Regions from separate parts of the Homo sapiens genome. Here regions 1, 2 and 3 are each linked to region 4. Evidence: fine-mapped expression QTL. A gene starts in region 4. Each other region holds a variant in brackets. All regions are shown on one strand. Distances are from middle to middle.

Region 1 (7,877 bases), 92 kb before region 4:
AGAGGATCATCTGGCCACAAAGTTGGCCAAGAGACCCAGAAGAGCCTGCAGCATCTGGGTTGGGTCCTACAGCCTGCACCATGGTCAACGTGGCCTTAGAGCTCCCTTGCTCCCCTCAACGGCCCCCAGCCCCAGGAAACCAACTCTCAGGTTTGCCACCAAAGAAGCCCCAGCGTGAAGGCCTCTCTGCTCTGCTTCCTGCCAGAGAGGACCTACCAGAGGAAGGCCTGGGGTGAAGGTTTCTGCTCTGGAGGCCAATCCGAATCCCAGCTCTGTCCCCTGCTCCCTGAGAGAGCTTGGGTGTGCTCCTTTGCTCTTTCTGTCTCAGATACCCCACCCATAAAAGGGGTTGATAATAGGAATGATCTCATTGGGTTACCATGGAGCTTCCATGAGCTAATACATATAAAGTGCTCAGGACACTGCCTGGCACACAGGTAAGCACTCAATTAATGGCAGCTACTATCGTTGTTCTTCCACTGGCCTCCTGCATCCAGTTCCTCATGGGATGTTCTGTCCAGGTGAGCACCATGGCCAATTAGGAAGGCACTGTCATTCATGGAGCCCTATTGCATGCCAGATCCTTGTGACAGAGGTCAAGACACACTACCCCAAAATAGGGCACCTTGGCACATTGGAGGAATTGGAGAAACAGCACATGAGGGAAGGTTTCTCTGACCTTCCCCTGCCCTTCTCTTCTGAAGCAGGCCCTAAAACCTAGGAAGGATTTTCTAATCTTCCCCCGAAGCAGGGCACAAGACCCTCAAGTGAGAATGCCCTCCCTATATCTGGAAAAATGGAGCATCTTATGTGGGAAGACACAGGGACTGAGAGAGGAATCTGAACAAGCAGGCCTTGCTGAGTTCCTCCCACCTTACATACTCCTGCTTTTTGTCTTATCTCATTTCTCCATGACTCTCCATTCTTCATCAAATATACTCAGGGAGAACTGTTTCTTCAGGTCATTTCCATAAGAAGGCTCACATGTCACATAAAACTTATAGTAAATACACGTGGATGCTTTTCTCTCATTAATCTGTCTTTAGTTACAGGGGTCCCAGCTGATGAAGCTAAGATGAGTAGAAGAAAGATACGGGTTTTATCCCCGACACTGGGCATAGTACCTTAGTTTCCACGGCTGTGGACAGACATCATTATCTCCATCATAAAAAGAGAAACGAGGTTGAAAGAGGTGCAATAACCTGCCTGTTTCAACCAGCAAGTTGTCCCAGCAAGAATGAGAAGGGCATACACTCAGCCTGAGTAAGGGAGGATAGGTCGTGGGAGACCTGTTTTCAAAGGTCTTGCCAGCCTTTGGAGAAACCAGTAATATCAGTTCAGCACCTGGGGCTGGAAACACTGGGTGCTGTGACCACCCCTGAGCCTGAAGGGCGAGAGAAGGGAGTGGTCGATGGACCCTGATAGGAGCTGTGCTCTTTGTAGAGGGGCACAGGCAACCTGTGTCAGCACAGGGAAAGAGTGGAATGAAGGGTGTGCAACTGAGACTCCAGCACTGCCACCCTGTCCTCACTCATCCCACAACTGCGGGCTCCTGCTGAGGCTTCGACTGGGCAGAACCAAGCAGAACACAGCAAGGTGACTCAGTCCATGAGCACCAGCTGTGCAGGGCCCAGAGCAGAATGGAGAGGCTGGGGCATGGGTCTGGCGGGGCCTGAGAAGACAACACCACTGGGAATCCAAAGAGACGGCAGAGGACAGCAGAGCTGGGACTGAAGCACACAGCCCTCCATACACCTACTCCAGATCCCATCTTCTTCCTCCATGGGGTATGGTCAAGAGCAAAGCCACTGAGTTCCCAGCTTGAGGACCAATTCAAGGACAAGAATAGGAGGTGCCTGGTTGCCCACGCCTTGCCATTGGCAGCAATCAATTTCCTCATGGTGCTATTATCACAACAATTATAATTAGTGACTAAAGACTCCAGAGGCACCCACACTGAGCCTGTGCCCAGACACTGTCCTAGAACTCTGCCTTCTTCTATGCGTTTTTCTCAACAACCATGCCATGCAGGCATTTGCTTCTGTATGCAAATGAGGAAGCTGTGGCTCAAAGGGGCTAAGTAACTTCCATCCACCTGACATGGAAAACAGAGAACAGGAAGGGCCTAGGGGCCAGGCTGTTGGGCTTCACAGTCTGTTCTCTTTCATCCAGATCTAGAAAGTAAACCAAGGGATGATTACCTTTAACGGCAGAAAGGAAAGCTGATGTCTCAGCCTGGGCACTAAGCTCTGCACCCCAGCCATGTCTAGTTCTTCAGTATTTCTGTCCTGGTCTTGTGTGTGTGACAACAAACTTCCCTGGTACCCGAAGCTCAGGATGTCTGTAGAGGAGACCCCAGAATTGGCTGTGCTATTCTTTTCTTCATCTGGGTTATTTCCACCAACACCTATAAAAACAAGCCAAGAAAAAGTCAACAGCTTAAAAAGGCCGGTTTCTTGGTGGCATCTCTATGTGGGCACAGCGTTTTCCTCCAGTGACAGAGTGATCGTTTATAGCTGCTCGGGTACAATATGAATTTAGCTCCTCCTGAAAGATGTTACATTTAGATTAGAGAAAGGGAAGATTCTACATGGGATTTAGAAACCTAGATAGAGCTTACGTGACCCAACTATGAATGCGTAGGCTCAAAAGAAGTTCATAAGGCCAGCTATCCCTTATTAAGCTCTAGCCATGTGATGGGCACCTTAGATATACATATAGGAAGATATGGACATCTTCCCATCTTCTCAGCAAACCCACCAGGAAGGTGTAATCCCAGTTCAAACATGAGAAAACAGAGTCAAAGCTATTAAGTGTCCTGCCCCAAATGCTACAGCCAGCATGTGGGAACTGTCTTAAACCCAGCCTCTCCTGGACACCCCACTGAGCACATCTGCAGCCACCATGTGATCCAAAAACCAACGTATCAGGTCCTTTTGGGAGGCTTGGTAATAACCAAACTGCAGGCCCCTGTGAGTGAAAGCTAGGCCACTGATTCCTGCTCACCCTGTGTCTGACTCGTGACCTGGCATAGAACAAAGAAAAGAACGTGAGGTTGTGAATCAGTAGAAAAACCTTGGGCAAGGTGCTTAACATAACTGAACCTAAATTTTCCTGTATCTAAAGTAGAGATAATATCAATATCAATAATATTGTAGAGTTGGTGAGGCTTAGAGATTATACGTACAGAAAAGATTTTACATATGTTAAGAAAGATAAAAATATATATGTATATATGAAAGAATATATATTCCCTCATATATATATATATATATATGGCTCTCATACACACACACACACACACACACACAGACACGCACAGCTTAGTACATGGTAGAGCCTCAATAAATGTATCTACTGTTAACATGTTATTATTAGCTGCTCCACAAATATATGTGGGAGGAATGAATAACAGTTAGATTTTCTTTAGACCTGGATACAAGTAGATTTACTACTTTTGATACAGACTCATTAACACTCAGGGAAGTGCCCAAACTCACATGCTGAATGAATTCAATTTAAATAAATCTGATTTAATGAATTTGATTTGAAGTTATTCAAATCTAAAGGTATCCAGCAGGGAGTGGCAGGGCCACTGTTTCATAATGCTGTATTTCTGGCCCTTTCATTCACAGATTCTGTCATCATTGTCCTTCTGGCAGT[G/A]TCATAAGCATCGGCTCATTCTCTTCCACATCCTCCATGAGAGGTGAGGATGGGACTTACGATTGAAATGAAAAGTCAAACCATGCTGCAACTGGTGTCCTGCCTAGTAGACATATGAGCTGGGAGACCTTTTTTGGTAAAGGAAACTCAATTTATTGTAGACCATGACAGATGCTCATGATGGACATTTTATCTGTCTGATCCTGATCTCCAATCTAGCCCAGCTGCCTTAACAGCAGCCTAAAGAGATAGAAGAAAGTCATGGTAGTCAAGTCTCTGCCACGGAGACCCAGCCAGCATCACCAAGGAAACATCTTCCTCTGGCAGTGGCCCAGCTATGAGGAAACCCCACCATGATGAAGGCAGCATTGCCAAAAGGTGGCTGGGGTGCCACAGTGAAAGGACATTTTATTCCCAGCCATTGTGGGAAACTCATTGTCTGGAATTCTAATGTGAGGTTGTGGTTTGAGAATAGCAGACCTCGAGTACTGCTTTTTGACAACCTCCATCACAGCAGGCCATCCTTGGACTATGCTGAATTGTGATTTGGTCACCTGCATTGTGTTTCCTGACAACACATGGGATGGTTTGACTGCTCCTGTCAGTGGAGGATGTGGAAGAAAACACAGGGATTGCTGAACCACTGCAGAAAGGAGAGCAGTGGTGCTGGGAAATCCAACAGACAGCAAGCCAGAGACTGGCATTGGAGATGTACTGAGGCCAGTCCCTGAGAAGGCTTCAACCCCAGGATGAAGGGTGTGGGGCTGAGACCCCAGCATGGCCACCTTCCACCACCCATAGCTTCTGGACAGGGGAGCTGCATGGCACTGTGTACAGGTACAAGAGTGAGAGAGCATGCATGCAGAAGTGTTCAGAAGGCAAGGCAAATGCAGTGCCTGCATTTAGTACCTAGAAAATGCTGGCTGGTGTGACAGGAAGTTCTCCTGTATACAAGGGAAAACTGTACAACACCCCTCAAGTGTGAAGAAGCAATCATGAGCCTGAATTTGCAGGCGGTCTGCTGTTAGTTTACAGGATCACCCAACCAAAAAGCAGCATTGGTCTCAGGAAACTAGGGAGAAGGGATGTTAGCCTACTCCCATTACTTCCTCCAGGCTCCTCAAGCTTGGTCCCGATAAAAACAATAGTATTTTCCTTTAATATAGGCAGTTGTTGCTCTCTCATTCTTATCTAAAGGATGAAGAAAAGCATCATCAAAAAGTACTTTACTCTTTAGGTTGATCAGGAACATGCACATCAAGTAAGAAGAGCGAGCTTGCCACGAAAATTCAGCTTTAAGAAAAGGCCAGGTGCAGTGGCTCATGCCTGTAATCCCAGCACTTTGGGAGGCTGAGGCGGGCAGATCACTTGAGTTCAGGAGTTCCAGACCAGCCTGGCCAACATATTGAAACCCCGTCTCTACTAAAAAATACAAAAATTAGCCGGGTGTGGCAGCGCGTGCCTGTAATCCCAGCTACTCAGGAGGCTGAGGCAGGAGAATTGCTTGAACCCAGGAGGTGGAGCCTGCAGAAAGCCAAGATCGTGCCATTGCACTCCATCCTGGGTGAAAGAGTGAGACTCCATCTCAAAAAAAAAAAAGGAAAATCAAATACCGCATGTTCTCATTTACAAGTGGGAGCTAAATAATGAGAACCCATGATCACAAAGAGGGGAACAACACACACCAGAGCCTACTTGAGGGAGGAGGATGGGAGGAGAGAGAGGATCAGGAAAAATAACTATTGGGCACTATGCTGAGCACCTAGGTGATGAAATGGTCTGTATAGCAACCCCTGTGACACGAGTTTGCCTGTAATAACAAACCTACACATGTAGCCCTAAACCCAAAACAAAAGATTAACAAAGAACAGTGCTTGTCTCCTCCCCAGCTGATTGCTATACCTATACAAAATATAGAAATTTTGTATAGGATTCTATACAAAATATAGAAATCCTGGAGCCGACCCTATCAACAAGGACTTTGGGTGGCAATAAAAAGGTCCTCCCTGCCATGCAAGGAGAGTTGACAGAAAAAAAAAGACTGGTTGTATCCAGCCGTGTCTAACAAAATTAGAGTAGGTTACTCCCTTTCAGCAAGACAAGCATGGTAACGCCCATTCTGCCCCTGAAATTGCAAAGCTTATTAATTTGTGCCACTACACTGCTTCTTTGCAAGCCAACACCATGAGGAAAGCAATATAGAAGACCTACGTGGACTTCAAGGTCTAGTACCTCACAGTAATCATGTACTCCTGAAAACAGGGGAGCCTCTTAAGCTCCCAAGAGTGGGTTAAAACATACCTTTTGACTGAGAAATAATTAATTCTATGTTGTCAGGGGAATTCTGGATCATCCTAACAGCCATGTTGAATGTGAAGCCCTCCAGACTGATGTGATTCAGGGCTAGTATCTGCCCTCCTAGAAAAATAAAACATCTCAATAATCCTTCAAGGAAATAAAAAAGAGTGGTTTCTTAAAACAGCATCTCTAGTAATTTAAAAAGATGTACCTGGTTTGATCGTTTTTGCTTTTTCTGCTGGTCCTCCAGGTATAATAGAAGATATAAAAATGCCAGGGTCAGCTTGGCCTGAATACTCTCCCTCATTAATGACAAACCCTGTAATCCAAGATGATAGTCCATGATAAGATGATACTTAGTGATTTTGCTGTTCAGAGAGGTTAGGTTATTTCCCTCATATCACACAGCTACCAAGTGGCATTAGCTGATAGTTACAGTCAGGTCTTCTGATCCTCAAATAGAGGATCTTTTCTACTTTACCATGATACTTGGAGAAAGGTGGATTGTTCCCCATTAGTAAGCACAGCTAAAGCTAGGAATACAAACCACCAATATGCACTGGATTTTGCTCCAGTAGATAATGAGACATAGGAAAGAAATGATTTTTAATCAAGTACCTTGTCTCCGTACCTTGTTTCTTCTACAGTTTTTCGGGTCTTAGAAAGTGGTCACTAGTAAGAGGTGAGATAAATTGACTCTTCTTCCCCATAGCTGACTAGAGGAATGTTGTTACATGGTATTAGGGGAAAAAATCTTTTTCTGCATTGTACTTAGATGCACCCCAAAAAGAAAAACTTGGAAACAAAAGTCCCATTGCTCTTTAGGAACAATTAAAGGGAGAAAAAAAACAGAAGTGATTACCAGAAAAGGCAGACTGGGAGAGGAGGGATAGGAAAGGGGAGTAGGCAAGTTGAAAGGGAAAACAGTACCCACCTCCCCACTTTGCCCAGCAGTAGAGACTGGGCCTCACCTACAGGGAGCCCTCTTACCAAAACCACGATGTGGGTCACGTTTCAGTGTCACACGTACAATTTCTCGGCCCGGTTCAGCTATAAAGCTCTTCCTCCTATTATTCTTTGAGCCTAGAGGTAGAATCAGAGCACCACATTGTGCTTTTCCCCCAAATTATTTGGGAGCTAATACAAAAGGAGTAAACAGCATTTCACACACATGCGCGCACACACATTCACACGCACACAATCCTGAAAACAAAAGTAGCTCATATTTAATCTCCCAGCAGTGCTGGGAATGGACACCTGAACACACACTCACATGAGCCTCTCTGGAGTGTCACTCAGTGTTGCTCAAGTTCCAGCTTAAAGAGCAGAGGCAAGAACAGGATGGGCTATGGTGCTTGTTTTCTGTATGACTTACTGTAGCTATTTTTTTCCGCATTGGTTTTGGGACAAGACAGAGGATGAGCAGAGATGTATTAATAATTGCTGAGAGTCAAAACAAAAACAAAAGCTAAAACAGAGGTGAGACAGTAAAGCCTTCCCATCCCAGGCCTCAAATAACCAGGGGTGACAAGGTGCCAGCAGCCCAGCCTGTGTGACCTGTGGTCTTCCCCTGGCTTGGATCATGGAGGAGCCCCAGGCAGAGCCCTGAAGCTGTTCCTGGAGAGCTGGAGTCCTGGAGTGGGGCACTTCAGTGTGTGCCACAGTGTACTTGGGAAAATCCCCAAATGGTGACCCACCACTTCAGTCCTTCCATGTCTCTCCCTCCCCCAGGGACCTTGGCAGAAATTGGCAGACAAGTTACTTGTAAAGAGTTGCCTGGCAGTTTTCCTGATTGATATGGTTTGGCTGTGTCCCCACCCAAATCTCAACTTGAATTGTATCTCCCAGAATTCCTGCATGCTGTGGGAGGGACCCAGGGGGAAGTAACTGAATCACGGGGGCTGGTCTTTCCCATG
Region 2 (7,877 bases), 100 kb before region 4:
TTTGGGGGCCAGCTATTTTCCTACCCCTGTGAAAGGAGGTGGCACTGAACCTATCTACAACCCTCTTAGGACCCTAGAGTCTGGAAAAGGGGGGCCCAACCAGAGCCAGGTAGAGAGAGTAGAAGACACTGCAGCCTACCTGCCATTCCTGCTCCAGCTCAGGCAGCGCACCTGGAGGGGGTCGGCAAAGGAGGAGCGTGACTTCCTGTGGGGCCCCTCTCAGTAAATGCAGCACCTCCTGCGAAAAACCAAGATTCACTGTTAGATTTGGGCTTGCATTGCTGGGGATGCAGTGATGTTCTCCCCACTGCGTCCCAGGCACTAGCTCCTCCTCCCTGCACCTTGATCTATTTCTCACTCCAGAGAACTCCGGAGAACCCTGCTGTGGGCCTGACTTTTCAAAGTGCAAGGAACCAAGGTCAGTGGCCTGCAGCTTCCACAAAGTTGATGCAAGATGCTGGGCTGTGCATCACCTTTGTGCAGCTTGGGTTCTGGGAACCTCTCATCTGTAATATTGCAGTAACCTCCTCTCCGCTCCCTGCCTTCACCAGTGTCACCCACCTGCCTCCTTCCACATTGCTCAAGGGAATGGCAATATCTGCCAATACCAATGCCTTTTCTTCAGAGAGAGAAAGAATGACTCCAACAAATAGCTGTTCATCTCAATTGCCCTTTCCTCCCAACCTGCCCTCATCTTGGGCCAGCAATTTTGCAGCCTCCACCATCTGAATCTCTAAAGCCTGACCCTTGGCTCTGAGCTTCCTATCAGGGCTCGGCTTGGGCTCTGGGAACCTCTCACCTGTAGTATTGCAGTGACCTCCTCACTGCTTGCTGCCTTCTCCAGTGTCACCCACCTGCCTCCCTCTGCAATGCTCAAGGGTAGTTTTCCACAGTGCAGATATAACTGAGTCCTTCCCCCACTGCACACCCTGGCTGACTCACTTTTCCCTCAATGTAAGCTCCAAGGCATAGCACATAGACCCCGTTTCTGCCTGCCTCTGCCTCTCACCACAGTTCCCTCTCTCCCATCTACTCCCCTCTGCACCCACGTCCTAAGCCCCTGCCATGCTGAATCTGTTGCTCCAAGCCACCCTCTCAATGTCCAGGGTTCAAGGTTGCCTCGATAGCTCCTATTTCCTATTTAGACCAGGATTTCTCAAACTCTTGGCACTGTTGACCTCTCAGGCTGGACAATTCCTTATGCGAATGCCTGTCCTGTGCATTGTAGGTTGTTTAGCAGCATCTCTGATCTCTACTCACTAGATGCCAGAAGCACTCATCAGTTGTGACAATCACAAATGTCTCTGGACTTAATCAAATATCCCATGAGAAGGAAATAATCTCTGCTTAAGAACTGCTGATCAAGACACTCCCCAGTCCCTGCTTCAGCCACACAGGACTTCCAAGGGGTGCACTTCTTTCCTGGCTCACTGGTGTGAGCACTGCAGCATGGGCTTTCATCTCTCAGGATACATATCTCCTGCCATCACCGCTGTTTTCTGTCCATGAGCTCTGAAACTGCATGAGCTGTCTTCCTCTGTGTCTTCAGTCTCTCATAGAGTTGCCAGCCCAGCAGTGGTTCTCAGAGAAGGGTTCTTGGATCAGGAGATGGATGGATGAAGGCATGCCCTCCCACCCAAGCATATGGTGTTCTAGAGACCTCCCCCCAGCCCTGCCCAGAGCCACTGTCCCCCTTTGTCCATCTTGCTTTGTGTTTCTGGAGCTGACTTATAAAGGCTGCATGAGGCTTCCTGTTGGGCTCAGCTAGGGGAACACGGCAAGAGACCAGAGACAGGGAGGAGCGGAGGTCATTGCTCCTTCCAAATTCCTCCCTTCAGGTTGCCATGGGACGACTACAACCTCAGCCAAGGTGAGAGCTCATGCCAGCGAGTCCCCTCCAACAGCTCTCCATTCCTGGGGTGGAATAACTGCTCTTTCCCTTCCCCTTTGGCCTCAGGATAGGGGTAACTGCATCCCACTCTTCCTAGCCCTAGGCCACAACATGCTCCCTTGAGCTTCCTAACAACCTGCCCACACCTTTATTAAATGTTCCTCAAATGACTCCATTTTCTTCCAGGACTCTGTCTAATATATACAGTATTTCATTACTCTCTCTTCTTAAATTGCATTTTTTATCATAGACAGGACAATCAGTGTAATAATGTATGAAAAGCTGTAAATGTGTTGAGAAATGGGAAGGAGAGCAGAAAGGGACCCACTCTAGTCCCTTCAGCCCCATGCCCACCTCCCAGGATGTGTGTGAAGAGACGTCAGCCAGCACAAAGGCCAGGGCTTTATCTTCAGCTTCTCTCATGAACCCAGTGAGAAGCAAGGCTGACTCAAGGTCAGATATTTAAAAACAGAGATTTTAAATTAAATGTGAGCATGTACCACTAATTACTCTCTTTGTGTGATTAAAATCCGGGCTGCTGGTATGATTTTTGAGAGCCCAGAGTTTTCCCCACGGCAGCAGGCTAGTAAGAGGCAAAGCTGGGGCCAGCCTGCACAGAGAGCTGCATTGCCCATGACCCCCGGCACCTGGAAGATGAGGCCTTCCGTGGACCTTCCATTCACGGCCAGGATAATGTCACCAGCTGCAATGGCCCCATTCTCCTCAGCTGGCTGCCCCGGAAAGAGCCTCTTAATCCTCACAAGATCACTTTTGAGATGGCTGCAGCTCTCTTTCTCCATCTGCACGAAACTGAATCCCAAACCATTGGCATTCTTTTTTAGTTTGACTTCAAACTTAGGACCTGTAGTGTGGGATGTTGATAAAAATAAATTCTTCAGTAGATTACAAGTGAAATTGACCAGTCTCAAAATGCAAATTGTCAAGTAGATGAATTATTTCTTTTACGTTCAAATAATTCCTTTGCTAATTTTATGACAGAGTACATTATGTATGTTATAGATTAGTGCTGTCCAATAAAATATAATGTGAGCTATAAATACAAACCACAAATGTCATTTTGAAGTTTTCAAATAGCTACATTAAAATAAAAGGAAAAAGCAAACAAAAAATAAATAAAACAATTTAAAAAGTAAAAGGAAACAGGTTAAATACGCTATAATCGTACATCTAATTTAATCCCATATATCTAAAATATTACCACTTCAACATGTCATCAATATGAAAAAATTATTAACGAGATATTTTTTATTCTTCTTACGAACTAAGCTTTCAAAATCCAATACATATTTTATCCATTTAGATTGGTCACATTTCAAGTCCTCAATAACCACATGTGGCAAGTGGCTACCATATTGAATAGCACAATTATAGATAACTCAACTATGTTTATACATAAAGATATAGCTGCTAGGCATACACAACATGCTCTTGGCATTTAATAAAACTTGTATCACATACATTCCTATTACTCCTTTAGAACTCTAGTCATTTGTAGTATACTTGAAACTAAATTTTGCATAATTAGACCATGGAGAAAATTATGGCCAATTCTA[T/C]GGACAATGCTTTAGCTGCCATTTTGTTTACCCATGTAGGCTGACCATAAGACAAAACAGTTGCCTCTGGGCACCAAGGATGAACAGAGCTGGCAACCTACATGGTCTGTCCACCAAAGAGGCCTCTGGGCTGCCCCGCTGGCATCAATGCACAGAGGGACAGAGCACAGCTTGCAAACTTCACCAGGGCAAGAATGGAAGCATGTGAAGCAATTATGTGAAGCAATTATGTGAAGGTGTGTCACACGACCAGTTCTACCATCGCCCTAAGGCCTCCTCCACTCTTTGGAGTCCATTTCTCAAAGGCCCCAAGGGAGTGAGCAAAGGGGTGAGGACAGAGGAGACTTGATTTAAACAGAAGCATGCCCCTTTGCCCCACCCCTACCCTATGGCTGGCTTGAGTCTTCTGCAGCAAAATCAGAAAATCTCTATGAAGGGACTAAAACATGGCTAAGGTCCAAATCGTTCTTACTGAGGAAATCAGCGTGTTCCTGGCAAATACCAAAATCACAAGGGAATTGCAGAGGGGCAGCCCATCGGAAAACGTGCAGTTTTGTCCCTCTAAACGATCTTTCGTTTGCCTTTTAAAATGATGCTAATAACAAGGCTAGATTCCTGAACCTTCTCTCCCAACCTGCCTAGTCATTCCTCAAATAACTTTGTTACAAATGACTTGGCTGGACTGTGAAGCCAAATGTATCTGAAAGTGTATGACCCTTTCAGTCAATTTCATCCTAAATATTCACACAAACATTAACATTCTGGCAGCTGATCAAAGGACTGAGGAAGGCTGGGGGCAGAAAGATGCCTAGAAATAATTTGGGGAAAATGCATTTGTTTCCAGAAACCTATTCCATGAGATGGGCTTCCATGGCATGAAAAAGCAGATCTCAGCATGATCACTATGGCTCGCTTTCTTTTCAGGACCCAGAGGAAGCCTTCCTGCCTTTCCCTTTTGACTTGACAATTCAAAAGCGGCACACAATAACATGACAATAGTAACACTCAATTCTCTCCCCTCTCACCATCTGTCACTGAGACACAGCTCGAAGGCCTGCCAGGCAAGGCTGTTACCAAGGAAACAGCCGTGCGTTCATCTCCCATGCTGTCATTAGCAGAAGGACACTGCTGTGTACTCCTGGGGACTCTTCTCTCTAAGACCAGTCTTGCAACCTAGAAGGAAAGGTGAACAAACTCAGTTTACACTTCATATGGCAACCAGGAGGCACTCCCTTGACTCTGCAAATGCTTCTTAATTTTCGAATCCTTCCTATAAGCAGACTCATTTGAATCTCTCAACTAGCCTATATATTGGGATCTAGACCCAGATTTCTCAGTGCTTATTAGACAAGTGCACCTGAAAGCAACACATGTACCTCCACTTCACACATGCAGTGCCACACTCATCTTCCTCCCCTCACTCACCCTCACTTCCCCTCCTCGTTCTTCCTAAAACACTCCTCCCCTCGCATTGGCTCACCCCACCATTAACCTGCCAAGGGCCACATTTGGAGTGGTCCAGCTCTCCCCCATCTGGTTTCTAAGATGTGAACATTCCCCATCAAGAACAGCTCCTCAGTGCCCCCTCCCCTCCACCTCCTCTCTCACTGCCAGTGACCCGCTGGGCCGTGGCAAGCTCTGGTTACCTTGGCTCACTGGACCCTGTCTGCACCCTTCTTGGTCCACCCCATCATGGCTGCCAGTGAATTGGTCTAAGACAAAAACTGAACATGCAACATTCTTGATTTAAAGTCTCCAATGCTTCCCATCACCTAAGACCCAAACCCATGGCACCCCAGGTCTGTACCACCTGCCCTCCCCTTTCTTTCCAATGTGATTTCCCACATTTCTCCCCACAACACCATATACCCTTGTCGCCCTAAGTGTGATTCAAGAACCAGCAGATAGACATCACCTGGAAGCTTCTCAGAAATGCCAAGCTCCCATTCAGGGCATGTGGCCCTGCCTTCATCTTCCTGTTGCACCTGTCACTCAGCACCTGGCCCAGGATCCCAGAGGGACAATTCCTACCTGCTTAAGCTGCCAGGAGGCCAGCCAAGTACCCTCTCTACCCATGCTCATTAGCAAAGGTCTAAATATCAGAAGGTGCCAATAAATTATGGCTCTGTTCTCAAGATAGGTCAACCAAAGTCACTAATATAAGCAAATTTCACCAGACACCAGAAAACCGCTTTGGGAAAGAAAGCGAAAAGTGGCCAGAACATTGCCCCAAGCTTGCTGGAAGGGCCTTCAGGAATCCCTCCTGTCTCTGTTGACTTTTTAGTTGCCAAAAGAGGGTGATGCCAGCTCTGTGGCTCAGGACACAGAGGCAGTTAGAGGCTCCTAACCTCAGGCAGAGGACTCGGCACAGTGGGATAACATCGAGTCACTGCGGGGCAGGGAATAAAGGGGACATAAAGGATGAATGGCTCTGCTCTTGGCACCCTGAATTCCTACCTCATTGTGAGGAAAAGAATCCCAGGACACTCTGACCCACGCCCTGGTGGGTACAACACAGGGTGAGGGGGAATGGCATGAACAGGGAACGGAGTGGGGTCATCCTATGCAAACGTAGGGAGGTAAGAAGGCCCATGGACACAGGGCCAGCGGGGCTGGGGCAGCCAGAGCCAGGCTAGAGCAGTCTCTTCACTCCATCTTCTCCATTCCGCTGTCTGATTCCAGAATTCAGGCAAGCCACCAGTAAGTTTCTAAGGCTATCTATGGGGGGTGAGATTTTTTTTACTCAGAAACATCTATCTGCTATCTCCTGGGTTTCACATCCCCATAGAAAAGTGAGGGTAAGAAGAAATGGAAGAGAAAAAAAAAACTAACAAAGAAAAAGTCTTGTTTCTTGCCTGCCTCCCTCCCACCCAGAGGCGATTTCAGCTTCTGATGTTGTTCAGGAAAGTTCCGGAAGGAGGGGAAGCTGGTCAGCAACAGTCCACTCACCTGCCCAGGACCCGTCAGGCACTGCACAGCCTGCTTGTGGGTGAGGCCGCACAGAATCACTCCATCCACCTGCAGGAGTCGGTCACCTGGGAAAGGGATAGATGTCATGTCATGACCTGGTGCTTGAGGCTGCAGGAGGTTCCCTTCCAGGAGGCCCCTGCCCGGCACCCCTCCATGCAGCCTGGAGAAGTGGGAAAGGAAGCTGAGGTGCCAGGTGTCCCCCTGGAGTCAGCAGGAATCCTGCCTCTCTGAGCAGTCTCACTCCCTTCTTCTCAGGCACATCACAGATCAGGGATATAAAAGCCTTTCTATTATTGGCTCACAGAATGGTTGAGCCAGCTCTGTTCAACCTTATCCTTCCTCCTGTTTTCCTGTGAAACCATTTTTGGAAGTATTTTCAAGTCACTTAGATATTTATATCTCCAGCATGTATTTTTTTTATTTCAAAAAAAGGTCAGGGAGGCATGGTTGACGCTGGGGACACCAGAATTCTAGGGGAAATGGAGATAAGTAAGATCCTAGGTTCCCCTTTTGGCTCAATTCTGGCAGTTTTGGAGACCAGTAAAAATCACCCCCTTCCATCAGAGAAGTGGGAGCTGAGCAAGGGCAAACAGAAGGCTCAGGTGTCCTCCCCGGATGTGCGAGTGAGTTTACCGAGGCCCACTTGTCCTCCAAGGGAAGCAGTATGTTTTCCCATGGAGGCCAAAGAGCAACACAAGTCTTTTAAGTCTTCTACTATTTTTCTATCACCTATGCTTCCCAGTGTGCCACTGCAGACCCCCCAACCTATCAAATGGGCAGGGCAGGTTCTATCACCTCCTTTCCAGGTGAGAAAAGTATGACCTGGGGAGGCAATCATTTGCATGAGTTTTCAGAATGGGAGCAGGGCAAGGCCTAGAGGCTGCCCCTCCCAGTGCAGGGCTCTTTACACCATGGAGCACAGAGTTCCCAATGAGGACCCATCCCCATCTCTCACCCTGTAGGATCTGCCCTTCCTTGGCAGCTGGTCCTCCAGGAACAATGGATTTCACATAGATACCACCATATGGCACACTGGTGTTAATGCCACCCTGAAAAACACAACAAAAAACTCACCACCCATCTTTCCTCCTCCAGGAAGCCTCCCCAACCTCCCCAGCTAAGGGAATCCCCACCTGCCCACCACTCTATCCCATGACCTTACCTCCGACTGGCACTGTCTTCTGTATTCACCTGTTCGTTTAGATTGTATTCTCCACTGAGCAATAAGATTAGGTGTTCATAAGCTTAACAATAGCAACTATGTGAGAGATCTGGGCATGTCCCCAGCCCAAGCACTGGTACAAGGCGGGTGCTCAGCAACTGCTCACGTGGGATGCACCACTATCTCTATATAGGTAGTGACCAGCGTAGGTGGATATGGCTGTGGGCCTGAAGGCTTGTGCCTGGCACGTCTTGTGTGCTTTGATGGGCCAAAGGATATG
Region 3 (7,877 bases), 1.0 Mb after region 4:
ACAGAGCCTTTACGACAAACAGTGCTGGAGCAATGAGACATCCAAATAAACGTCTACCTAAGTCTCACATCTTGTACAAAGATTAACACAAAACAATGGATTGCAGACTTCAATGTTAAACACAAAACCATACACCTCTTAGAGAAAGATAGGAGTAAATCATTGGGATCTAGAGCTGGACAAAGAATTCTTAGATTTGACGCCAAAAGCACCAGCTATAAAAAGAAAAATGATACAACGAGCCATGTCAAAATTTAAAACTTACTCTACAAAAGACCCTGTTGGGAGGATGAAAAGATGTGGAGAAGATATCTGCAAATCACATATCTCACAAAGGACTTACATCTAAATACAAAGAGCTTCGAAACTCAAGGGGAAAAAAGCAAATAATCAAATTTAAAAATGGACAAAAGACATGATCAGATATTTTACCAAAGAGGATGCACAGATAAAAAAATAAACACAAAAAAAAAGATGTTCAACATCAGCAATCACTAGGAAGTGCAAATTAAAACTACCAAGAGCTATCACTACATACCTGTCAGATTGGCCTTTTACAGTCTTTAAAAAGTGATGCGGAGGAATGGATCACTCATATATTGCTGACAGAAATATAAAATAGTACAGCCATTCTGGAAAACAGTTTGGCAGTTTCTTAACCAAGTAAATATGCAATTATCATATGATCTGTCATTGCACTCTTGGCCATTTAGCCCGAAGGAATGGAAATTTACCTTCACACAAGATCCTGTGCCTATGACAGCCCAAGTCCAAGGCTTGGGAAGTGGTTGGCTAAATTGGAAACTGACCAGTTCCAAAGGAAAGTGACAATGGATGACCAATGGAGAACCCTGTTTATAAGGAATGCGTGAGCATGACATTCATGGCATTTATTTTCAGGGACACCCCTCATTTCATGCTGTTCGACACTTTCTGTACCCCACTGCCTATCTGTATGTCCAGATCTCTTGGTTTAGTCACTGCTGCCTCAGCCTGTGACAAACTAGCAGGCTTCAACCTGCTTTGGGAACAGCACCTTCATCTCCTGGACCCCACACTTCAGGCCTCTCTCACTTTCTGCCTCAGACCCTTCCTGATTCCAGGGCATGTGGGCACTTCTGTGGGGATCCACTGAGCATTCACACAGGTGCAGTCCCAAAGTGCAGAGATGTTAATACCCAGGGCCACCCTTGGCCTGTGGGAGGAGAGGAACCAAAAGATGAAAGACTCCCACCTAAGCCCCAGGAAGACAGTTCTGAAAGACATTTCAAAAGGCTCTTCAGAAGATTCCAGCCAGTGGAGTACCAGTCCTCTCCCTTAGTTGCGAGCAACGCCTGTCATGAATCCTGGAAATGCCTCTGAGTTTTTCTCTGCCCACTCCCTCAGTCCTAGACTTGGCATCCCTGGAACGCTTCCCAAATGCACTGCCTGTCTATCCATTCATTCATTCATCTGTCCCTCCATCCCCTCATGCACTCATTCATCCATCTGTTCATCCATCCACTCATCTGTCCATCTACCTATTCTTTATTTCATTCATCTATTCATCCATCCATCCATTCACATATCCATCCACCTTTCCATCCATTCCTTCATTCAGCAGACCTTTGCTGCATTCTGGGAGCCCACATGATGCCAGGCCCTGGAAGATATCAATGACTATGACACGGTCCTTGCCCCTGAGCAGCTCATGGCCTCTCCAGGGAGGTGGATGCCACATCCATTGCCCTTGGCTAACGAGGTACCCCTCCTTTTCCTCTCATTGTGCCCTACACTTCCCTCATTAAAGAGTGTCAGAATTGTTTGTATGACTTCCCCCTGGGCTGTGAGCTGCATGATGGAGAAAGCTCACACTCACACAGATGAACACCCATAGCACCATCCTCAGTGCTCTGCATAGATAATTCTTAGCAATTCAAAGAAGCAAGAACTTCACAGCTGAGGAAAATGAAGCCCAGAGGGGTGGAATGATTGGCCCAAAGTCACACAGGTAGTTCAGTCCAGACACTCTGGCTCCAGAGCCTGTGCCCTGGCCTGTGACCTTCAATGTCTGGTCGGAAAGCTGGCTGGAATGCTGTGTTCACTGCAAAATCCCAGAACCTTGTGCAGTGCCTGGCCCCTGGAAAGGCTCAGCAGAGCAGTAAGCACAAGGTGCACAGCAGCACAGGGAAGGGGCATGGCTGTCTGCTGGGTACCAGAAGGGAGAAGAGGGAAGGGAGAGAGGAGAGGGGGAGAGAAAGAGGAGGTGGGAAGGAAGGCAGCAGCCTTGAGCAGGGCCCCTGGGGCTGGGATGTAAGACCTGAAAGAGGATCAGTGACAGTGATATGAGATGCCACGTGAGCAGGGCTGATTCTGAGGGGCTCCTATCCAGCAGGGGTGAGAAATCATTAACACACTTGGGCAGGGAATGTGACAAAACCAGAGCATCAATGGCAGGGCTGCTGCGTGACACAGGCTAACAGCAGGGAGACTGGGGCAGGGACAGTGGTCAGGTTGCAGTTGCAGGGACCTGGGTGAGGCTGTGGGAGCAGGCCAGAGGTAGGTGGCACCTGGGGAGAGGGGAGAGGAAGGGAGGCAGTGGAAATGTCCCAGCTTGTGTGAATGAGTGTGTGATGGTGCCCCTCAACCCCCAAAATCAAAGCAACCATTTCCTGAGGGCCTACAGTGTGCCAGGCCCTGGGGCAGGCCCCGACATAACATCTAGCTTTGCAATGGCAACAGTGCTACAAGTGGGTTTTTTCCTTCTCATTTTACGGAGGAGAAAACTGCCTGAGCTTCTGGAAGCTCCCATGGGCAGTGCACGATGTGGAGGATGGGGTGGGGAGGTCCGTGTGACTCCAGGGCACCATGCCCCAGGAGGCTACACTCAGGTCATCGTCACTCAGCAAAGAGCCTGACACGGTGACAGCTGACCAGGCTTTGTGAGTGGCGTGGTGGCCAAGAGCCAAGCTACAAATCATGCCACGTTGCCACGAATCTATGTGTGGTCTGCTTGCTCCAGCTGTCTCAGCTCAACCGGATCTATTGACGATTCACTAATCCAGCCGATAGCTGGGCAGCTGACCCACAAACTCATGCTGCTGGGCCCAAGGTGACACCAAGCCTGCTCCCAAGCCCTCAGATTAGTGGGTGTTAGTTCATCATTAAAGAGTCGACTTCAGCATGATTTACCTTGCCCAGGGTGCCCTGGACGGTGCAGCAGCAGGCACCCCGAATGTCTGCTTTCCTCTGTGGCATATCTCTTTCCTCGAGCATCCTGGTTTAACCCATCTATCCATGGCCATCTCAGTAAACTTTATTCCTGACAACAAGCTTCAGTGACCTGAATGGTGGCCCCCAAAAAGATATGTTCAGGTCCAGATCCCAAAAAATCTGTGAAGGTGACTTTACTGGGAAAAAGAGTCCTTGCAGGTGTGATTAAGGATCTTGAGATGAGGAGGTCATCCCAGTGAGCTCTACATGCAATGATGGGTGTCCTTGTCTAAGAGAAAGAGGGTATTTGAGACAGATAGAAGAGGCGGAGTCAATGCGACTACAGAGGCAAAGATTGGAGTGATACAGCCACAAACTGAGGAACAAATGGGGCCACCAGAAGCTGGAAGAGGCCAGGAAGGATGGGCCTCTAGTGCCTTCAGAGGGTGCCTGCTTCCACCTCGACTTTGGACTTCTGGCCTCCAGAACCATGATAGAATGAAGTTCTGTTGTTTTCAGCTGTGCAGCGTGTGGGTAACTGGTGACAGCAGCCACAAGGAAGTAACTCACACACAAGCTGACTTGGGTTTCTGACTGGAGTGTGAGTTGCTATTTGCAGGAGAATTTGTGATCTCATCCCTCAGGCCCAAGAGCTGGTCGGGTCCTGTTCTGCCCTTGGCTGGAAAGGGAATCCCGAGGTTGCATCTGCTGCTTGGGTGTGGAGCTCTGGGCTGGAGCAAGATGAGAAATGGGCCTATTTATAAATGAACAGAGCCAGAGGGCGGGTGTGGGGTCGGCCGAGGGCTTCACCAAGGTCAGAGGCCCAGTCCCAGGGGGACAGGAGCATTACAGAGAAGAGCAAAGCCCTGAGAGGAAGGCGGGGGCCACGCCAGGGCACTTGTGGCCTCTCTGAGCAGCGAGGCTGTGGTCTCTTTCTGAAAGGCCTAACATAGGAATGCCCAGCTGGCTTCCAAGTCATATCTGGTGTCTCAGGCGAAGGGCAGGCCCCAGTGGGTGGGAGCAGATTCTTTCCTGCTGCCTCATTGCGGCTCCGAGAAAGGAAGTGTGAGTGCCCAGGGTGGGCACCCTGCACACAACCGCAGCCCATCC[G/A]TGGGCAGTTGAGCCTGCCATCTCGGGGGGATGCTGTCACGGTGAGTGGGCCTCTGTGCACGTCTGAGTTTCCTGCTCTCTTGGCAAGGCCAGGTTGGAGGGACTTAGTGGGCGGCGTCTCAGCCTCGGGCCATCACACAGAGGGCAGGCAGGAAGCTGTGCACAGTGCCAGGGATGCAGGGGGACAGAGACCCTACTGATGAGTGGCTGAGTTGGACCAGGGTCCACCCTCAGCCCATCCAGTGCTGGGCACAGCTGGGCAAGAGGAAATCCCAGCACACTGTCTGGTTTACTCAGCCCCTCCCACAGCTCTGTGCTGGGAGGTGCCTGCCCTCTGCACCAGGGGCCTGGGAGCTGGCAGAAGCCTTTCTCCAGGGCAGGAGCAGCCTCTGGCCCAGCTACTGGTGAGGAACCCTGGATTCCTTCACATCAGTGACCATACCATGTGCACGCCTCTGAGTCTTATGGCCTTCAAGCACCTCTACCTGAAGAAGTCCATCTCTGACTGAGGAGCTTTAGCAGGAAGAAGCATGGTTGCAGCCTTTTGCCTGCTCAGGCCTAGAAGGGACAGCTTTAGTAAGCCTCGAATCCCAGCTCCATGCCCTCCTTAGCTGTGTGACATTGAGCAAGTCACTCAACCTCACTCAGTCTTGTTTCTCACCTGTGAAATGGGGATAACAGGCCTACTTCGTTGAGCTGCTAGGGAGGTTAAATGAGACAATAAATGTGACCAAAGCTCTAATGTAATGCAGATGTAATTACACTAAGAATCTTAAAATGAGGATATCATAATTATCCAGGAGGGCCCTAAATTTAGTGGCAACGTGCCCTTATAAGAAGAGACACGCAAAAAGGAGAGAGATGCCTGGACAGCCGAAGCCAGGTGAAGATGGGGACGGAGATTGGGGCAATGCGGCAACAGCCGCGGAAGCCACCAGAAGCTGGAAGAGGCAGGAAAGGATCCTCCCCTGGAGCCTTCAGAGGGAGCACGGTCCTGCCAAAACCTTGAGTTCAGACTTCTGGCCTCCAGAACCATGAGGAATAAACTTCTGTTGTTCTGAGCCACCTAATTTGTGTTAATTTGTTAAAGAAGCCACAGGAAACTAATACAACAACCTGCAAAATGGGCTAGTAATACGTACCTCTTACTTTTGTGGGAGGATTTTTTAAGTGTTCATAAAAGAAAAAATCTAAAGATCCAATCATCAGAGATAGGTATAGATTATCTGCACATTGACATGAAGAAATAGCATGCAGCCATACAAGAAAGAAGTTTGTAGACAGTAGTGACCAGGCAAATGTTCACGTTCTGGTATCATGTGGGGAAACGTGAGCCACAAACTGAGGAACAAATGGGGCCACCAGAAGCTGGAAGAGGCCAGGAAGGATGTGCCCCTAGTGCCTTCAGAGGGCGCCTGCTTCCACCTCGACTTCGGACTTCTGGCCTCCAGAATCATGATAGAATGAAGTTCTGTCAAAATGTAAAATTGCAAATGTCTCTGAACCTAATTTTGTTTTTTAAAAATATGCTGACACTTTGGCAGGCTGAGGTGGGTGTATCACCTGAGGTCAGGAGTTCGAGACCAGCCTGCCCAACATGGCGAAACCCCATCTCTACTAAAAATACAAAAAATTAGCTGGGCGTGGTGGCAGCAACCTGTAACCCAGCTGCTTGGGAGGCTGAGGCAGGAGAATTGCTTGAACCTGGAAGGTGGAGGTTACAGTGAGCTGAGATCATGCCATTGCACTCCAGCCTCGGCAGCAGAGTGAGACTCTGTTTCAAAAAAAAAAAAGTATTCTGAAAAAAGAAAAAAATAACACTGACCACTGCTGGGCAATATGATACCATGTTCTTTACTTTCTTTGCTGTTATTTTTTTCCCAAATGCTTCTCAATGAATATATGTTACTTTTATTTTGAAAAAGTAAAAAGGAGCTGTTCTAAAATGATTTCTTCCCGCAAATAACACATAATTGTGCAAGAGTCACTGCAAGCCCACTTTCTTTCCACCTGCAATCTCATGACAGCCTTATAACAGCCCCAAAAGGAGGCCATTATTCCATTATTCTATGCTGCCATTATTCCATTCTGTAGGTGAGAAGGCCAGGTTCTGTGAGGAACTTGTCCGAACACAGAGATAGCCTGTGGCCCAGCCTGAGGGTCAAATGCAGCCTGTCAGCTCCTAGAGCCCATGTGAGGGAAGCCACATCCCTCATCCCAAAGACAAGGGCTGCTGCCCGAGCCAGGCACTGGCTGCCGCTATCGGCCTCCCTCTTTCCCGACCATGCCCACGGCTTGGCTGTGTCCATCAAGTTAGACAGCAGGTAAAAGTCTCAAGTGCCCTCCAGGCAGAGATAAATAATGGAGAGCAAGATCCAGGGATTCTGGTTTCTGATGTTTAAATGGAATGAAGGATAAATCATTTCTGCTAACTGTTTTTACCTGGCTGTGGGAAATGATGCATCACCGTCTTTTAAAAGAAAATTAAGCCTTTAATTCCATGGCACATGTAATAAAATGGTACTTCAGCTCTCTGCGCTGAATATATAGCCCGTCCTGTCCTAATTTACTATTTCGACATGGCCTGAAATGTTCTGAAGTTATTAATTTGGCAATATATTCAAGCACAAAACCCGGCCTTCAAAGGCTGTTGAAGCACTCAATTAACGCAATGGAAGGCTGTGTGGGAGCCAAGAGGGGCACATGGCAGGAGGCACCGTCCTGGGAGCTCTGGGTGCATGGCTCACCCTGCCACTGAGTGCTGGGGTGAGCTGGAGCCTCCATTTCTTCTTCTGTAAGGCAAAGACTATGGTTCCTAACTCACAAGCGTGCAGTGCCTGGCTCTCACCCTTTTCCTCCCTTACCTGCATACCAGGTTGCACTAGCCAGCTCATTCTCATTCTCTTCCAACACTGCCTCAAATGCTACCCTCCTTCTTCAGACTGTTTGACAGCCCACGGGATGACTGCAAATACACACATATGTGTGGAACTGCCCATCCCAAGGCTCTGAGCTGACACTCCCACTGTTTTTTGAAGAATAGGCCTTTGTGAACAGAGAGCTGGCCCGATGGTCCATGCAAAAACATACAGGGACAAAGTTTCAGTGTACGGTAAAGGACAAGGGCTTGGTAGATTCTCGACTCATGTTCATCTCCCTGCGTACTCTCTCCTCTTCTGCCCTCAGGTGATGCTGATCAGAGTAGCCACCACAGCCAATGGTCAGCTGATCCCACAAGCCCTCCCTGCTCCTTAGCAGTTGAAAGAGCCACTGCATGGAGACATCTGGATGGGAACACTGTGAGTGGCAGCCCTCCTGTCCTGCAGAAACTTCCAAATGGGCTCAAAGATACCACTAGAATCTCCAGGGCGAGACCCTCTCCTCAGCAGAGGGGCCCGTGCAAAGCAGTCCAGCCACCTCATGCCTTCTCCAGGGCAAAGCTTACCTCCTGTTTAAGGGACAGGATTTGGGGTAGTTAATTTAGCTTCTAGCAACTCACAGGGGAATTACAAACCTATGTTTGAGGGGGGAAAGCACGTATCAAATTCTCAATTATGGACCTGATCCCGCAGCAA
Region 4 (7,877 bases):
TTTCAGCCACTTTCTATTCTCCAAAGGATCAGCTCAGATCCTGAGCAAGATTTGCAGGACCTCAGGCCCACCGCTTTGGACTGATCTCTAGCAGCTTCCTCTTTCCCCCATGGCCTTTTTCCAGCCTTAGACGCACCACAACCCCCTTGCCTCCTGTCCTTCTGCAGGCTCTGTGGGGACACTCGCATCTGGAGCTCCTTCTTCCCCCACTGGCTGAATGACTCAGTAAATTAACAAGTGAATACTTCAGATGCTGCCTGCACTCTGGACTGGCATCATACAAAAATGATACTGATAGAAGAAACAAAAGAAATTCCTAGATGGCACTTTTTTAAAATGTCTAATACATTTACTCTCCAGCCAGACACTGTTTAACCCATCTTGAATCTATTGAAGAGTGAGTTCTGACAGCTCAGCCTTGATCTGCCTCCTGCCTGGCACCAGCCCTCCTGGAACTGGTTCCTGTGCACCATCCTACACATCTCCTTCCTGCCTCCCTTCACTACCTACTCTATTTCCAACAATGTTGGGCTATGATAGCTCAAGCAAATACAGGAATAAGGAGGCTTACAGCCAAGGCAAGAAAAAAAAAGGGAGGGCAGTTAACAGTAGAGCTGCCAGCGACCAGTAAAAGGAAGCCTGAGGAATAGGAATCAGCCTCGAAAGCAGACTTCTGCCAGGAAAGCAGCTAAAAACACTGATATCTCAGGGTGAATACAATTCAGGAGGGGAATGAGAATAGAAAAGCATAGTGGCTGGAAGAGCAGGCTCCGAGGTCAGAGCTGGATTGATCCCACCTCACCGTGGGCAAGTTACTTCCTCTCTTTACTCGTTTATACCATGAGTTATTGTGTCTGGCATATGGCAGTTTTTCAATAAATCCTAGCTATTCATATTATGAATCCTGAGTATATGGAGAGGGCAGGGAATAGGCTAGAGACAAGCCAGCAAAACTGGGGTTTCAGACCAGAAATGACTTCACTAATGGAGCTGCAGGTAGCATTGTCCTGGGCTGCACACCGCAGCCCTTGCTATTCCTGAGCAGTTGAATTCATAGTCATCTATTCATGGTGTTCTTTTTAATAAGTCCAACATTTTGGTGAGTGACAGCTTCATCCCCAGAGAGAAGGAAGTATTCTTCCTAATTCTTCCTTCGTGCCCCCTTCATTTGCACCCATGAGTCATTTTCTCACCACTCTGTATTCTGCTCCTTAAACCTTTCTTGGATTCTGTGATATGCTGAAGAAGGCTCCTACTGGCCTGTGAGAGCCAATTGTTAAATTTCCAGAAATTTTGTAAGCTGGTCATTAAACACAGCCATTACCAAAAAGTATTATAAAAATCTCCAATTAAATAAGTTATATTAACAATATGTTGAAACTCACCATTTCCAAATTATTTTACTGCATTTTACTGTTGTCTGTGCTTTGGAACTTATTTAAATGAAATACATTTCTATGATGGAAATACTGTGTAATGGTGTGCTGGTGCACAGCCCTTCCACCTTTGTGTTCAGCGATATCACATTGGGAGCTTGTGATTGGCCATGGTGGTAGTATTTATACCACAAAAATTGGCAAAAGCTACAAATTAGGGCTTGGTTTGCTGTTTTTTCATTCCCTAAGAAAACTAAGAAAGTGATGGAGAAAATGTTCATGCAGATTAAACCTAAAAGTGTGTCGCGTCCATAGTTGTTACATTGTGAATAACACAAAAATTGGGAAAACACTCTTCCAAATTCAAAAACTATGATCTGATCCAGCAGTCACTCATGTCATTGACAGATGAGTGAAGTTAAGACAATCATCTTCATTGTTTCACTTTCTTCTTACTTGTCAATGTAAACAAAAATATCAACCAACATTCATATTGGAACTACATTCAGTGGTCAATTGCAAACAGGCTGACCAAGGGTATAAGAGTTCAGCAAAAATCAACAAATGCATGCTGTGAGAATCAAATGGCTATATAGAATTTGTAATAAAGAGTATTTTATATTTTATTACTTGTAAATTGTGCAATATACATCCTTCATATCAGTAAAATTTATAATGAACTTATTAGATGCATATGTATTTGTTTTTGCTCACAGTGCTGGCAGCACCAGCTTGGAGACCTCCCCTTCTCTACATTCCACTGTTGTTTTCTTAGGTTAGGCCATCTGTCATCATTCCAGGTTTCATCCTCTCCAATCCCACACCCATATTGCTACTAGATTAATCTTCTTAATATTAAATGCAGACACGACACATCCTTCATTAAAACTACCAGTGCCTATCTGGGACCTTCTGAGTGAACTCTGGGCCATAGAAGGCCTTCCTTGCTCTCCCCTGTTCACCTCTGCAGCCTCCTTTCTTATCAGATTCCCCTGTTCCCACTTTACTAAAGTTAGGCCAAACTGCCTGCTGTTCCCAGAGCATGCTTTACTTATTCATGCCACTGGGCCTTTGCATGTGCTTTTCTCTGCTTGGGATGCCTTTTCCAATCCCCCTGCTCCCAACTCCTGCTAGTGTTCGCTTAGCATTAAAGCCATGCTCAAGCAACACCTCTCCCAGGAGCCCGTGCCACCTCCATTTCGGCACTTGCTATCACCGCCAGTTTTCATGCAGGTCCAGCATTCTGCCCCCCGACCCCCACTGTCCTACAACCTGGAAGATCCTCTGGGCTGGGGGAGACATCCCCAGCATTTGGCATGTGGCCCCAGGAGATACCAAGTAAGTTCTCGTTGAATTAATGAACTACTTAATTGGTTTCAGCTACAGCCTATAGCAAATCACAGGATTTAGCCAGGAGAAATAGACACGACTCATCTCTGAACTCAATTGTTGCTTTAAAAAAAAAAAAAAGTTGTTTACACTGTTGAAAACCTCAACTGAGTTTTTTCTTTCCTTTAAGCATACAAATAAAGCCAGGTGAATCATTTCTTTTCCATTGTTTTCTGGAAGTCAGCTAGGCATACCCTGAGTCTTCTTACTTTAAACCACTGATACTCTTTAAGCAATAACCAAAACACTTGCTTCTGAAAGATAGTGACAGCCATGATTTACTGGGCTACTCAAATGCTCCAAGTATGTTCTAAGTGCCTTACGCGTGTCACCCCATGAATCCTCAGCAACATCGTAACGCATGGGGCATTATTATCCCCATTTTACAGGTAAGAAAAACGAGTCTTAGGAAAGTTAAAAGAGTCATTTGAATTTGCACAGATGCTGAATAGCAAAGCAGTGATTCAAACAAGGGGTGGTCTGATTCTAAAGTCCATGTTTTCTCTTCTGAGCCCATTCTTTATTGCTAAAAAACAAATACAATGTCTATCAGGCTTAGCCAATGGCCTGGAACAAATAATACTCCAAATAATACCACAAAGGGCACTGACACAGGTCCTTGCCCAGCTGTGTTCTTCTTATTCCGGATACCTAGACCCAGTAAGAAGTTTGCCCTTTCCCTGACCAGATTTATAGGAGAAAACTGAATGATGCCAAGGAATACCTGCGTCCTTCGTTAAAGGCTGCATCCAAAAGTCTCCGTGACCAGGTCTAGGCCTTCATCATGGGACAACTTTCCAACAAGGAGCAGGGGTCTCTTGCAAGTCTGTCCGCGGAGCTCCCTGCCACCAGCACTGTTGCCGCTGTCTTTGTTTACTGCTTGTCACTAAGCACTTGCTGCCCAGCGAGTGAGTCAACAAGGCCCCTTCCCTTTCCTGCCACCACTCTCATTCCCTGGGTCCTGCGCAGTCTCTGGCCTGTTAGCAGGCACTGCCACCCCAGCAGCCTGCGTCCTCAAAGCCAGTGACCCGTGAGAGAGCCAGGAAGAGCTCAAGTGGATTAGGTGCCACTGAAGGCAATGGGATTGCTGCTCAGCAGGGCTTTTACGCTGATGTCTCTTTATCTCCTGGCCCAATCAAAAGAAAGAGCTCTGCAAGGAACTGGGGGCAGCCCCAGAGCAGAGGCTTAGTGTCATCAACTCAAGAGTCCTCCATGCCCTTTCATAGTGTCAGACATTGGACCTGCAACCAACAGGACAGGGAACCATGTGAAAGCAGCAGGAGGAAATGATAACCTGGATCTGTCTGTGAGAAAGCAAGAAAAATGTGGTTAGAGAAAGGGGGAAAGGAATTCTTACTCTTTCTGGTGCTTGGATTCAGAAAGGAACCAGCAGAGATGGGGAACAGCAAGAAGTAGATCATAGCTCTGTAGTAGAAGGGGCAAAAGAACAGATCTCTCAAGCCCTTTAAATCAATAGCAGTGTCAAAACTGAGACGTATTTATTTAAAAAGAAAACATGAGTTTTTGCCTGACTACAGAATAAAATACTAAAATTTGAGGCCGGGCACAGTGGCTCATGCCTGTAATCCCAGCACTTTGGGAGGCCAAGGCGGGCAGATCACGAGGTCAGGAGATCGAGACCATCCTGGCTAACATGGCAAAACCCCGTCTCTACTAAAAATACAAAAAATTAGCTGGGCCTGGAGGCGGGTGCCTGTAGTCCCAGCTACTCCGGAGGCTGAGGCAGAAGAATGGCGTGAACCTGGGAGGCGGAGCTTGCAGTGAGCCAAGATCGGGCCACTGCACTCCAGCCTGGGTGACAGAGCGAGACTCTGTCTCGAAAAAAAAATCTGATGAAACTCAGTGCTGGTGAGGGCATGGAGAATGAGTACTCTCATATGCCAATAGTGAGATTACAGATAAGTGCAACTTCTCTGCAGGGAATTTGGTAATATTCATCAAATTTGTAAATGTACATATCCTTTGTAAACCCAGCTGCTAAGAAGTAACCCCATGGACATTCTTGCAAAAGTTCACCAAAGCATCTGAGAAAGGATGCTCTTTGCAGTGTATTTTGGTAGTAGCAGAAAACTGAAAGCCACTGAAGTGCCCATCAACAGTGATTATTGTAGTTCACACACAGTAGAAAACCAGCTATGCAGCTGTGTAAAGGAAGGAAGTAGATCTGTGTGTGCTGGCATATAACAATTGCCTAGAAAATTCTTTAAGTGACAAAAGGTATGGAATAGCCTAGTATGTTTCCTTTTATTACAAATAGGTACATAAAGACCAGGTATATTTACGTATATTTATGTATACATATTCTTTATACACTGTAGTATATTAGAATATTATGTAGACATATTCTTGTGGTTCTGGAAGGAATCACAAGCAACTTAATAGTGGTTGCTAGGGGAAAGAGTTTTGGCTCATTATTTAGTCAGGAAAATTATTGTTCATTTTGGTATTTTCCCCCTATAACCTTATGTTATATTACTTGAAAAAAACTAAAAAACACAATGTTTTACATTTTTTTCTGCTTAAAGCTATCTATATTGACATTCCCTGCTAGCTAGCAAAACATTTCACAATATCTGCAACAATCTTTTACTGTTTTTTCCAAACTTGTCTTCTCATCAGATTCAGCCTTGAAGACGATAAAATGCAGATTCCCAGGCACCACCCTGAATCTGCTGAACCTGAATCTCTGGGCCCGAGCCAGAGCATCTGTATTTTCAGCAAGTGTCCAGGTAATTTTTATTTAGTAATTTTTTCAGGCTGACCACGCAACCTTTCTCCCAGAAGAAGAAAGTTGACTTCTCCAGTCATGTGGCTCGTTCACAACAGAACAAAAAGCAACACCTAAGTCATCTGCCAACAGGTAAATGCTGGTCTGCTTAAAGTCACCACCACTTTCACTTTTTCTGTTAAAAATACTAGCAGTAACCCCCTTCTATTGTTGCTCTGCTAACATTTCATTAAGTCCATTTTTTTGCATAAAAATTTTATCAATGTGTTTTTGTTTTTCAAGTTATCAAAGCTAATAGTTTCTCTCTGAGTTATCTCTGTGTCATTCCCTATATAATTTTGTTATATTTTATATATTTTTATTTTTTAAGGTTATTTTCCTGTCAAAATTCTTTATTGCGTATGATCATTTAAAAAAAAAACTTTATTTTAGGTTCGAGAGTACATGTGAAGTTTTGTTACAGAGGTAAACTCATGTCATGGGGGTTTGTTGTACAGATTATTTCATCACCCAGATATTAAGCCCAGTACCCAGTAGTTATTGGTTCTCTGTCTACTCACACCCCCCCAACCCTCAGGTAGACCCCAGTGTCTGTTGTTTCCTTCTTTGTGCTCATAGTTCTCACGATCCAGCTCCCACTTATAAGTGAGAACATACTGTATTTCATTTTCTGTACATGAATTAGTTTGCTAAGAATAATAGCCTCCAGCTCCATCCATGTTCCCATGAAAAACATGATCTCATTCTTTTTTATGGCTGCATAGTATTCCATGGAGTATGTATACCACATTTTCTTTATCCAATTTGTCATTGATGGGCATTTACATTGATGCCATGTCTTTGCTATTGTGAATAGTGCTGCCATGAACATAAATGTCCATGTGTCTTTATAATAGAACAATTTATATTCCTTTGGGTATATACCCAGTAATGGGATTGCTGGGTAAAATGGTATTTCTGTCTCTAGGTCTTTGAGAAATTGCCACACTGTCTTCCACAATGGTTGAATGAATTTACATTCCCACCAACAGTGTATAAGTGTTCCCTGTTATTTGCAACCTTGCCAACATCTGTTTCTTTATACATATTTTATTAATAGCCATTCTGACTGGTGTGAGATGGTATCTCATTGTGGATTTGATTTGCATTTCTCTCATTATCAATGGTGTTGAGCTTTTTTCATACACTTGTTGGCCGCATGTATGTCTTCTTTTAAGAAGTTTCTGTTCATGTCCTTTGCCCACTTTTTAATAGGGTCGTTTGTTTTTCTCTCGTAAATTTGTTTAAGTTCCTTATAGATGCTGGATATTAGACTTTTGTCAGATGCATATTTTGCAAATATTTTCTCCCATTCTGTAGGTTGTCTGTTTACTCTGTTGATAATTTCTTTTGCTGTGCAGAAGTTCTTAAGTTTAATTAGATCGCACTGTCAATTTTTCCTTTTGTTGTGATTGCTTTTGGTGTCTTTGTCATGAAATCTTTGCCAGTTCCTATGTCCTGAATGGTATTGATTGCCTAGGTTGTCTGCCAGTGTTTTTATAGTTTCTGGTTTTACATTAAGTCCTTAATCCATCTTGAGTTAATTTTGTATATGGTGTAAGGAAGGGGTCCAGTTTTAATATTCTGCATGTGGCTAGCCAGTTATCTCAGCACCATTTATTGAACAGGGAGTCTTTTCCTCATTGCTTGTTTTTGTCAGCTTTGTTGAAGATTCACATGGTTGTAAGTGTACAGCCTTATTTCTGGGCTTTCCATTCTGTTCCATTGGTCTATGTTCCTGTTTTTGTACCAGCATCATGCTGTTTAGGTTACTGTAGCCCTGTAGTATAGTTTGAAGTTGGGTAACTCAATGTCTCCAGCTCTGTTCTTTTTGCTTCAGATTGCCTTGGCTACTCAGGCTGTTTTTTGGTTCCATATGAATTTTAAGATAGTTTTCTTCTAGTTCTGTGAAGAATATTGTTGGTAGTTTGATGGAAATAGCTTTGAATCTGTAAATAGCTTTGGGCAGTAAGGCCATTTTAATGACTTTGATTCTTCCTATCCATGAGCATGGGATGTTTTTCCATTTGTTAGTGTCTTGTCTGATTTCTCTGAGTAGTGTTTTGTAATTCTCATTGTAGCAATCCTTCACCTCCCTGGTTAGCTGTATTCCTAGGTATTTTATTCTTTTTATGGCAATTGTGAATGGGATTGCCTTTCTGATTTGACTCTCGGCGTGGCTGTTGTTGGCATATAGGAATGCTAGTGATTTTTTTGTACATTGATTTTGTATCCTGAAACTTTGCTGAAGTTGTTTATCAGCTGAAGGAGGTTTTAGGCTGATCGAAATCTTTGAGTTTATATATTTTTTAATTTAATTGCTT

Direction of the effects. Alleles are on the strand shown, and positions count from the first base shown. SD is a standard deviation of normalised expression in the study named. Not every link is listed here.
In carriers of allele A in region 1, the expression in prefrontal cortex of the gene that starts at base 3,643 in region 4 tends to be lower than with G alone (small effect, 0.39 SD a copy in CommonMind).
With allele C in place of T in region 2, the expression in testis of the gene that starts at base 3,643 in region 4 is lower (small effect, 0.26 SD a copy in GTEx).

The links.
Region 1: its variant is fine-mapped to the expression of FRMPD2 in prefrontal cortex (CommonMind, PIP 0.95).
Region 2: its variant is fine-mapped to the expression of FRMPD2 in testis (GTEx, PIP above 0.99). The same link has a PIP of 0.9 or more in cerebral cortex and prefrontal cortex.
Region 3: its variant is fine-mapped to the expression of FRMPD2 in cerebral cortex (GTEx, PIP 0.97).

What each region holds. Positions count from the first base shown.
Region 1 is chr10:48,178,602-48,186,478 of GRCh38, forward strand. It overlaps FRMPD2 (FERM and PDZ domain containing 2), which reads right to left. Exons shown (of 29, transcript NM_001018071.4): 18 at 6,952-7,044; 19 at 6,173-6,280; 20 at 5,965-6,081; 21 at 2,202-2,407. Among named protein-coding and RNA genes, the nearest start is that of FRMPD2, 92 kb to the right of the region's middle. The variant G/A (reference allele first, on the strand shown) is at 3,664.
Region 2 is chr10:48,168,456-48,176,332 of GRCh38, forward strand. It overlaps FRMPD2 (FERM and PDZ domain containing 2), which reads right to left. Exons shown (of 29, transcript NM_001018071.4): 23 at 7,391-7,484; 24 at 6,415-6,500; 25 at 4,491-4,638; 26 at 2,539-2,753; 27 at 140-238. Among named protein-coding and RNA genes, the nearest start is that of FRMPD2, 100 kb to the right of the region's middle. The variant T/C (reference allele first, on the strand shown) is at 3,466.
Region 3 is chr10:49,268,625-49,276,501 of GRCh38, forward strand. No RefSeq gene overlaps it. Among named protein-coding and RNA genes, the nearest start is that of C10orf71-AS1, 26 kb to the right of the region's middle. The variant G/A (reference allele first, on the strand shown) is at 4,303.
Region 4 is chr10:48,271,054-48,278,930 of GRCh38, forward strand. It overlaps FRMPD2 (FERM and PDZ domain containing 2), which reads right to left and starts at 3,643. Exons shown (of 29, transcript NM_001018071.4): 1 at 3,490-3,643. The coding sequence starts at 3,514.